Linked DNA regions of Homo sapiens. The protein of the gene in region 1 purifies or fractionates together with the protein of each later gene. This does not show direct contact. Each region holds a gene or a part of one and is shown on either strand. Other genes may lie near its edges.

Region 1 (5,305 bases):
AGGTACCATAGACTAGGTGGCTTGAACAACAGAAATTTATTTTCTCACAATTCTGGGATCTAGAAGTCCAAGATCAAGGTGTTGCCTGAGCTGGTTTCTTGAGAGGGCCATGAGGGAAGGACCTGTTCTAGGATTATATCCTTAGCTTGTCGATGGCCATCTTCTCCCTGTATCTTAACATCATCTTCTCTCTGTCCATGTTTGTGTCCAAATTTCATCTTCTTATAAGGACATCAGTCATATTGGATTAGGGCCCAAACTAATAACCTCATTTTAATTTAATTACCTCTATAAATACCATATCTTCAAATATGATTACATTCTGAGGTACTGAGGGTTAAGACTTCAACACGTGAACCTCTGTGGGGGTTGGGAGGTCACAACACATAGAGACCAGCTTTTCTATCACTGCATATTAAACTCTTGATTGCGTTCCCCAGCAGCAGCCTAAGTGATGCTAATAGAGTTCCCAGTTTATAATTAAGTAGGCAATTGCCCAACAGCCTCCAGGTTCTGCAAATGCATGTGTATCATTCAGGTGGAGCAGGAGGCTTGGCCTGCATGTTCTCCTGCCAGCATGCTAAAATAACAGCTAGAGGGCACGGGCTGGCTGACACATTTTTTTTTAAACTACATGTTATTATAACTGTGATGAAACAATACTTTCTTCTTTGGAAATTGGCTTTACCTTCTTGTAAAGTGCTACAAGTCCCCAGGGCTTTGCTTATTTTTACCATAATTATCATTGTTAAACTGTAGCTTAGCTGATGAAGTGTATATTTCAGTGGTATCCTGAGGTTGGGCATTTATAAGGAGGCTCTTGAATGAGTACCCATAGAGGGTCCTGAGGAAAGTCAGTGAAGCTCTTCCAGAATTTCTTTGAAGGTGCTTAAGTAAGAAAAAGAGTATACTTTAGGGGAAAAATAGTTTTGCAGTTAGAAATCATTTGAAAGAGATGAAATTCCAAGACAATGTCAGGGGATTCCCAGGTTATGTCTTTGGTGGGCATCTGCCATTTGTTAAAGTGAGAGAGAGAGAAGCTGTGCTTCTTGAAGAAAATGCCATCTTACTCTATCAGAATGATACTCAGGAGCCATAAGCCTAGCTTGTCTCCACCACTGATCAAAATGTTGAGTGACTATAACTTTAGGGCATCTTCTCATCATGATCTTAGAAATGACATTGTTTTGATCAGGGCCTTCTTGGGCTTATTTCTAGTTAGTAAACTATGAATACTAAAAATAAGAATCCAGCAGGCAGCACAGGCGTGTTTGTTATTATCTAATAAATTATTATCTAACAAGATAATAATTTGATACTTCAGCCTGATTACTATTAAGTACCTTCTGACTCAGTCACCTCATGGATTATGTTGCTTAAATTAACAGGACATCTACAGTTTTTATAGTGCTGATCTGAAGTTTCAGGCCATTTTCTATCATTGGCTCATCAGACATCAGAGACTAAGAAGCTGCTGCATTCTCTAAAGGAAATATTAACAAATATTGGGAGCACCAGTATTTGTCATGACCAGTGAGTCGCTGCAAGAAATGGCATAGAAAGCTGTGGGGTCAAGAACAAAAACACTCTGGAAGGCAATCTCAGTGTGGGGATGGAAATAGAGTTCAGCCTAACTGCAAAAAAAAAAAAAAAAAAAAAAAAAAAAAAGGTTGGGGAAAAACAAAGAATTCTCTCCCCTCTTTTTTCGTATTTGGACATAGATAAGTAACAAAATGCCCTTATGTGATTGGGAACTTGTGTTAGTTTCCAGACAATGAGATCTTGTTATGATTGACGCAGAGTTAAAACAGACAAAAGTAGTTACTTGCCAAACATTTATTATTAATTTTTCACAGTCCAATTATTTCAACAAGAATATATCTAAGGTATTATCAATAGGCCTCAAATGATTGTGGGCAAATGGGTCTTGTCAAAGGGCCTCTAGAAATTTGCCCCTATGTTCACACATTTTTCCCTTTTACACCCCCAACATGCTCTATGTGATCTCTTATTGGCCCTAGAGTAAGACAGATGTTTATGGGATTCTGAGCAGCTTCCTTCTAACAAGCTAAAATTAACAAAGGTTCATAATATTCTGAAACTCATCAAAACTTGGGGAAGTAGAATGAACACTATAGACTACAACAGACACAGTTTTAAAATTTGAACTCTGAAGTTGAGAAACACCTCATTATTTCTTCATGAGATTATGTGTTTAAGTGGAGTTGAGTTTAAAAAAAATCTAATTTAAATTCTAAATCTTCAAAGCTAAACCTATTCTTAACAGATATTTCTTCCAGTAATGGGCTGATTTTACAGGAAGTTTTTATGCAGAGGTCACTCCCCCTGCACTATTCAAGGGTTATAAAAATTTAGTTACCTGGAATTTGTGCTAACTATGCCACAAAAGATGAAATGCTGTTTGGAGGCAATGATCAATTTAGGTTCAAGAAGAAATAGCAACTTGAACATTAAAAGTATCTGCACTTTCCACAAGATGGGTCAGTCATTAAACAAACCGACCCATTGTTTAGAATCTCAAATCATCCTATTACTCTTGTTACTTCTGAAAGCAATAAATGAACATGTTCCTCAAACAAAATTTCTTAAACAAATTAAATGATTTATATTTTTTTTAAATGCACACCACATCTGCATCAAAGAGCAAAAGAAAGACATCTTGCAGTAAAGAACTACTTGAGGAAGAATAAAAAGCAGAAGTACAAAGTGCGTAAAATGAGCGTAGTTTAAGATTTTGGAAGAAAAGACATTCTAATATCAGAGAGTTTTCCCACAACCAGAAACATCTGAGTTATCACTTGGTACCCAGTGTTTCTCATTTTCCCGTGCTCGAAGCTTTGGCAGGTGTCAAGATATTGGCAACATCACTTAAGGGCGGTATTGAGATCTCTGCTCTTGGATGTACTCATAGAGAGGGCTGGAGCGCACTGGGACACTGGCAAACTGATGAGTGCCGGGCTCCAGAAGCCGCCCATGGCCCTTCCCTTCTTGGGATTTTATCTCCCCGACTTGGCGGTGCCTCTGTTCCTCCTTCTGCTGGCGGCGGATGTGTTCTTCCCGTAATTTCCTTTCCCGTTCCTGGCGACGTTTCTGCTCCTCTTCTTGCCATAGTTCTTGTTCCTCACGACGACTCTTCTCCTGCGTGGCAAACTGCTCCTCCGCCCGGTACTGCCGGTCTCGCTCCTGCCGCAGCCTCTGCTCTTGTTCCTCAAGTTGGAGCTGCTCTTCTTCCCAGCGATACTTTCCGTCACGCTGTTGGGGGCGCAGCTGCTGTTCTTCCCTCTCCTGGCGTAGCTGTTCCTCCTCGCGGAATTTTCTGTCAGACTCTTGGCTGCGCAGCTGCTGTTCCTCCCTCTCCTGGCGGAGCTGTTCCTCCTCGCGGAATTTTCTGTCGCGCTCCTGGCGGCGCAGCTGCTGTTCTTCCCTTTCCGGACGGAGCTGCTCTTCCTCTAGGATTTTTCTGTAGCGTTCTTGGCGGCGCAGCTGCTCTTGCTCCGTTTCTTGGCGCAGCTGTTCCTCCTCACGGAATTTTCTCTCCAGTTCCTGGCGGCGCAGCTGCTGTTCCTCCTGGAGGAATTTTCTCTCTCGTTCCTGACGGCGGAGCTGCTGTTCCTCTTCGCGGAATTTTCTGTCACGCTCTTGGCGGCGCAGCTGCTGTTCCTCCCCTTCCTGGAGCAGCTGTTCCTCTTCACGGAATTTTCTGTCGCGGTCGTGACGCAGCTGTTGTTCGCGCTCCTGGCGGCGCAGCTGCGGTTCCTCCTCGAGGAATTTTCTGTCACGCTCTTGGCGGTGCAGCTGCTGTTCTTCCCTTTCCTGGAGCAGCTGTTCGTCTTCGCGGAATTTTCTGTCGCGCTCCTGGCGCAGCTGTTGTTGGCCCTCCTGGCGGCGCAGCTGCTGTTCGTCCTCCATGAATTTTCTCTCTTGTTCCTGGCGGCGCACTTTCTGTTCCTCTAAACGGAATTTTCTGTCACGCTCTTGGCGGCTCAGCTGCTGTTCCTCCCTCTCCTGGCGCAGCTGTTCCTCCTCGCGGAATTTTCTGTCACGGTCCTGACGCCGCTGTTGCCCGCGCTCCTGGCGGCGCAGCTGCTGTTCCTCCTGGAGGAATTTTCTCTGCCGTTGCTGGCGGTGCAGCTGCTGTTCCTCCTCGAGGAATTTTCTCTCTGGTTCCTGACTGCGCAGTTCCTGTTCGCGGAATTTTCTGTCACGCTCTTGGCGGCGCAGCTGTTGTTCCTCCTCCAGGAATTTTCTGTCACGCTCTTGGCGGTGCAGCTGCTGTTCTTCCCTTTCCTGGAGCAGCTGTTCCTCTTCGCGGAATTTTCTGTGACGCTCCTGGCGCAGCTGCTGTTCCTCCTCCAGGAATTTTCTCTCTCGTTCCTGGCGGCGCACCTGCTGTTCCTCTTCACGGAATTTTCTGTCACGCTCTTGGCGGCTCAGCTGCTGTTCCTCCTCGCGGAATTTTCTGTCGCGGTCCTGACGCAGCTGTTGCTCGCGCTCCTGGCAGCGCAGCTGCTGTTCCTCCTTAAGGAATTTTCTCTCCCGTTCCTGGCGGCGCAGCCGCTGTTCCTCCTCGAGGAATTTTCTCCCTTGTTCCTGATGGCGCAGTTCCTCTTCGCGGAATTTTCTGTCACGCTCTTGGCGGCGCAGCGGCTGTTCCTCCCTTTCCTGGAGCAGCTGTTCCTCCTCGCGGAATTTTCTGTCTGTCTCTTGACGGCGTCTCTTCTCTTCTCTTTCCTCTCTCAGCAACTGCTTTTCCTCTTGGGACTTCCTGTCGCGCCTTTTGGCTTCCTTTTGCTCTTCTCGCTCCAGCTGTTCTTCCTCTGGGAAATGCCTGTCGCGCTGCTGCCAGCGCCTCCTCTCTTGCTCACGATCTCGCTCTTGCTGTTCACCCAGCAGGTGCTGCAGATCTTGCTGGGATTGTCTGTCGCGCAGCTGGGAATCTTCCAACTGCCGGAACTGTTCATTCTCTCTGCCTTTGCAGTAAACCTTGTTATCACGAACTGCATTTTCTTTTTCTGGTTCCCACTGCCATTTCAGATCACTGCGCTGATCCTCATCCCGGTATCGCTGCTTCCTTTTCTGGCGCTGAAGCTCTTCCTCCTCCCGATACTGCCTCTCCCGCTCCTGGCGCCTTTTCTCCTGTTCCTCTCTCAGCAGCTGCTCTTCCTCCTGCTGCAGCTCCTCTTCCTCGCGGTATTGCCTCTCCAGCTCCTGGCGCCTTCTCTTCTCCGGTTCCTCTCTCAGCAGCTGCTCTTCCTCCTGCTGCACCTCCTCTTCCTCCCGATAT
Region 2 (4,495 bases), on another chromosome or scaffold:
ACTGCATACAACACACACACATTAGGTAACAACTGCATACAACAAACACACATTAGGTAACAACTGCATACAACAAACACACATTAAGTAACAACTGGATACAAGAAACACTTGGTATTTCCCCTTTATGGAGTGAGAGAGATCTTTAAAATATAAACCCTTGATAATATAATATTACTACTTCCTATTACCTGTTATGCAGTTCTACACATTATCTGACAAATTCTTAATGTAATCTGGTGACAGAGAAAAATAATTTGAGGAGAAAGTATTTAGGGAGTGATGAAACAGACAGAAAATTACTTGTGGTAAGGACCAGTATTGTATTTGACTTTTTAAAAAACCATTTTTACCCTGGAGCTAAAATACGAGGTTATACTGTTCTGCTTAATACAATACTGGCAGCCTAAAAATGCTTCAAGAAACCATATCCCCAACAGCGGCAGAGCATCGGGAGGAGACCCTCTGTCTCTGAGGCTTCGGTGCACTTCTGCTCAGACGGTGGCGGGAGTGGAGGTCGCTGCTGAAGGGTGACGGTGTGGCCATGACACGGGCAGCACGGGAACGGAAGACGCCGGAGACCCAGAAGGCGCATGACTGCCTGGCCTCGAGTCACTAAAAGCAGTTTGATTTCACTCTTGTCTTACTTTTCTAGTATGGCTTCCTCTACTCTCTTAAACTTCTTCAGTTCGACAACGAGTTCCCAGTATTTGAGATAGAGCCACATGAGTCTGCCATTCTGGCGTTTGTTGGTGTTCCAGACATCACCACAGTATGTATCATGCTGAAATATGTCGGTGAGACCGGCTGCCATCTCTAGGTCAGCGGCGACGGGGTCGACGGACGCTCGCACCAGTAAGCTCTTCTCTATCTCCAGCCGCTTGCTGCGAGGAAGAAACAGACTGCAGTAGATATTCTGTCTTTCTGTGAGAACAGCTTCAAATTCTTTCAGCAAAAGCCTGGCTCTCCTTTGCCAGTTTTCTTCCCTTTGCAGGCAGCTCAAATACGCACTTCTCAAAGGCTGCACCTGTCTTTTTTCTTGCATCACCTGGGCCCGTTCCTGTTCCAGAAGCTTCTTTTCTTCTACCAACTTGCGTCCCTGAGAGATAAGGGCTTCTCGGTAACTAGCAGTTCTGTTTTGTTCCTTTTCGAGTTCCAAGGACAACTGAGCGACAGCACGCCGATTTTCTGAGATCATGGCGTGGTACTTGGCTTCCAGATCCTGTTGAAAAGCAGCAGTTCTCCGACGGTAGGCTTCTCTCTCTTTTTCTACTTCTTTCTGGGACTCCCTAGACCAAATCCAACCTGACATGAATGAAGAAAAATACACATAATGAAAAAGTTAGGGCTGAAGTTCTATAATCCTCACTTAAATCATAAGGCAGCTAAGGATAGTGTTTCAGTAAAAGCTTAAGACCTCGGCTGTACCAAGAAGATCACTTCTACGTGAAAATGTGTAACAGGCCAAGTTCTTATCTGAAAACCAGGTAAGGGCTGGGTGACCAAAAGACCCTAACCCTAGCCCTTTCCGTCTTCTAACTGTTTGTTGCTAAGAAGATCTACCACCATTTGCCTGCTCCGGCTCTAGTACAATTGGCAAAGTTTAAAATGTTTGGGTCGACTTCAACTACCGTTGGCCAGGTTCTTATAAAAGTTGTATTTAGCTTTGCCCGGTGGCGACTAGTAAACGGCCTGAGTTTGAGACACTGCTTATGTTCTGATAAGGACACATAAAAATAAAGTGGGTTAAGAAGTTCAGCCTCAAGACACAGTGGGCCTCTTTCCTCAAACTGGAGACTGCTGGAATCTCACGAAAACGGGACGAAGATTGCTGGGAGGCTGGAGGGGGCACTGCCCGGCTCTGCCCCCTACACCAAGGAGCAGCAGGGCTGGCCTGCACTGCAGAGAAATCCAGCGCCTCTAAGACCGGATGACTCACACAGCCTGCTGGCCAGCAGGCACCTGGCTCCGTATAGAGCCACCAACCCTTTGTCCATCCCACAAGTAAGAGTTGGATGTGTTTCAACAATAAAAAAAGACCGTGTGATAACAGTTCCATCCACATTCCGAACTGATGCTGCTCAATAATTTCATGCATGTTGGAGCAACTGCATGCTAAGTCTTAGTTTTCCAAACAGCGACGTGTTCTGCTTGTACATTCTAAAAGCAGCACGGAGTTGAGTCTTCTGGAAAACAGAACTGTTTGGCAAATTTTCAAAGCCCAAGGCCCCAAAAGCCACTGAGAGCAGCAGTCTGGGTTCCCTCGTGTGCTTCTATCCTGTAACCCCTCCCCTACTAACTGTGGGACTCCCTCGTCTGCAGCCCCTTCTAGAACCACTGGAGTTTCTATCAACTTTAATGGTTCTCTTCCTCCTCCTGCTGCCTCCCCCAACCCAGGTGGTGTCCTTGACATTCAATTATTTTCTCCCGGGTCATTAATGGTCACCTTTTTCTTCCAGGTCATTAATGGTCACCTTTGCTTTTCTCCCGGGTCATGAATGACCTTTGTGGGAGCAATTCCATAACAGCAAGATTTCCATTAGCCTGAAAGCCAGTCCCCCTTGGATATGCTGTTGACACTTCACTGAGTAAGCACAAAACCAAACTCATCCTTCCTCAACCAAAAATAGCTGCTAGTCCTACTTCAGATGACAACTCAAACTCACGTCACCTTTATCTCCTCCCTTTGACGAGAGCTCACAGGCAGGGGCCTGACCAGGAAAGAAGCTGTTACAACGTCACTTGATAAGCACTGAGGGGTTTGCAAAGGTATGTGAGGAGAGAGAAGGGAAGGCTCGTCTGGTTTTGGTGAAGTCAAGAACGGCTTCCTAAAAAGGTGAATGAACAAAGTCTAGAAGGCTGAAGGCTGAGCAGAAGCTGCAAGGAAAAGTCACCCGAAATTAAACGAGCAAGGCAGGCGAGAGCATCGGAGAGTGAGAGCTTCCAGGAGCCGGATGTGCCTGGGGACGGGGCTTATGTCAAGGACAAGCTGGAGCTGCCTCTGGAAAGTCACAGGTGCCAAATGAGAGGGGCCCCCAGGAGACCCGGACAAGGAGCACGGGATATGTTCTGCAGCCACGAGGAGTCAAAGGAATTAACGTGACTTAAGAGCATCCAGGAGGTGTGGAGGGGTGGAGGTGGGGCTGCGAGGGGTGGCGCCGAATCAAGAGGAGACAGGGAGCTGCTCCCTGATACAATCTGGGGACGATCTCAGTCGAGTCACATCATTGACACACCAAACCACTGGAAAACTAACACAGACAATGACGCACACGGTTAAACGTCAGACCCCACCATACAGGCTGTGGTTACTGGTAAGTTTTTGGCTGGACAGGGAGCCAGGCAGGGGAGGCTACAGGCAGCTTTGCAGAGGAAAGTGTGGCAGGACAGGCTGGATGTCAGGAAAACCTGAATTCCGAGTCTGACCTGACAGACTTTGGGCACACGCAACTTTTCAAAGCCTCAGTTTCCGGTGAGACTCCTGCTTCTGGGAAGACGGAGTAGACATCCTCCCTATTCTTCTTCTAAGTAAACTAAAAATCCTGGACATCATCTGTAAAACAAGATGACTCTGAAAGATGGAGAGAAGGCAGACTGGCTTGGGTCCTTGGGACCCCAGGAACAACACGGGGGCAAGTCCTCTAGATTTTCATTTTGCCTCATAGATCCCATACTTGGAGCTGAAGACACAGTCAATTGGAAATCTCAACGGGTGCAGACAAAAAAAGAAACTCCAACAAAGCCTGCTGTCTCTGCCCAAAGGACCACGATAGAGGCCTGGCAAGAGAGAAAATGTTCCGACAGTAATCACTCTACATCAGCCAAATAACACAGAAAAAACTACGGCCCCACCTCCACCCACATGGGCAAAGGCTGGATGGAGCTGAGGCTCCCACTCCCACCCAGCAGCAAACACAGGGTGGGGTCGGGGGGAGCCATGTGGGGAGCAGTGCTGAGGCCTTCCCAGCCGGGGGGCACCAGTAGAGGCCGGGGGGCTGGAACTCCCATCCTTTCCTCGGGGGCCCATGGGGGCCAGAGGCTGAGTGGGGAGCCTGGACTTCCATCCTCACCTGGCAGTAAGGAGGCTGCGTGGCCCTTCCCCTGCCAGGGCGCCATTCAAGAAAGCCAGCTAAGACCGAAGGTTTAAATAAAAACCAGTGTTTCAGCACGTAATGCCCCAAATGCGCAGGTTCAAACAGAAAATCACTCCTAGTACCAAGGGCCAGGACGGGTCACACTAAATGAACAAAGATGATCAACAGATGCCAAGACCTGGATGAGAGATGGCAGTATCATCTGACAAGGACTTCAGAGCAGCTGCCATGACAGAGAGCCTAAGAAAATAAACACAAGACGTAAAGAAGAACCAAATGAAAATTCTGGAACTGAAAAACAGAACAACTCGAAGAAAAACTGGAATGACGGAATCAGGACTCCCCCACAAACACAGAAACAACCCTTCGCAGCCTGGCCACACACATCATTCCACAACACA

The links. Proteins that work in one complex are often made in the same cells at the same time.
Region 2: the proteins of TCHH (region 1) and CCDC127 purify together in Homo sapiens (co-immunoprecipitation; one large-scale study listed by IntAct). This does not show direct contact.

The regions. Positions count from the first base shown.
Region 1 is NC_000001.11:152,104,496-152,109,800, forward strand, and holds the end of TCHH (trichohyalin), read right to left. Parts: coding exon 2,890-5,305; 3' UTR 1,822-2,889; downstream 1-1,821. UniProt on the Homo sapiens protein: Intermediate filament-associated protein that associates in regular arrays with keratin intermediate filaments (KIF) of the inner root sheath cells of the hair follicle and the granular layer of the epidermis.
Region 2 is NC_000005.10:204,654-209,148, forward strand, and holds part of CCDC127 (coiled-coil domain-containing protein 127), read right to left. Parts: intron 1,306-4,495; coding exon 644-1,305; 3' UTR 1-643.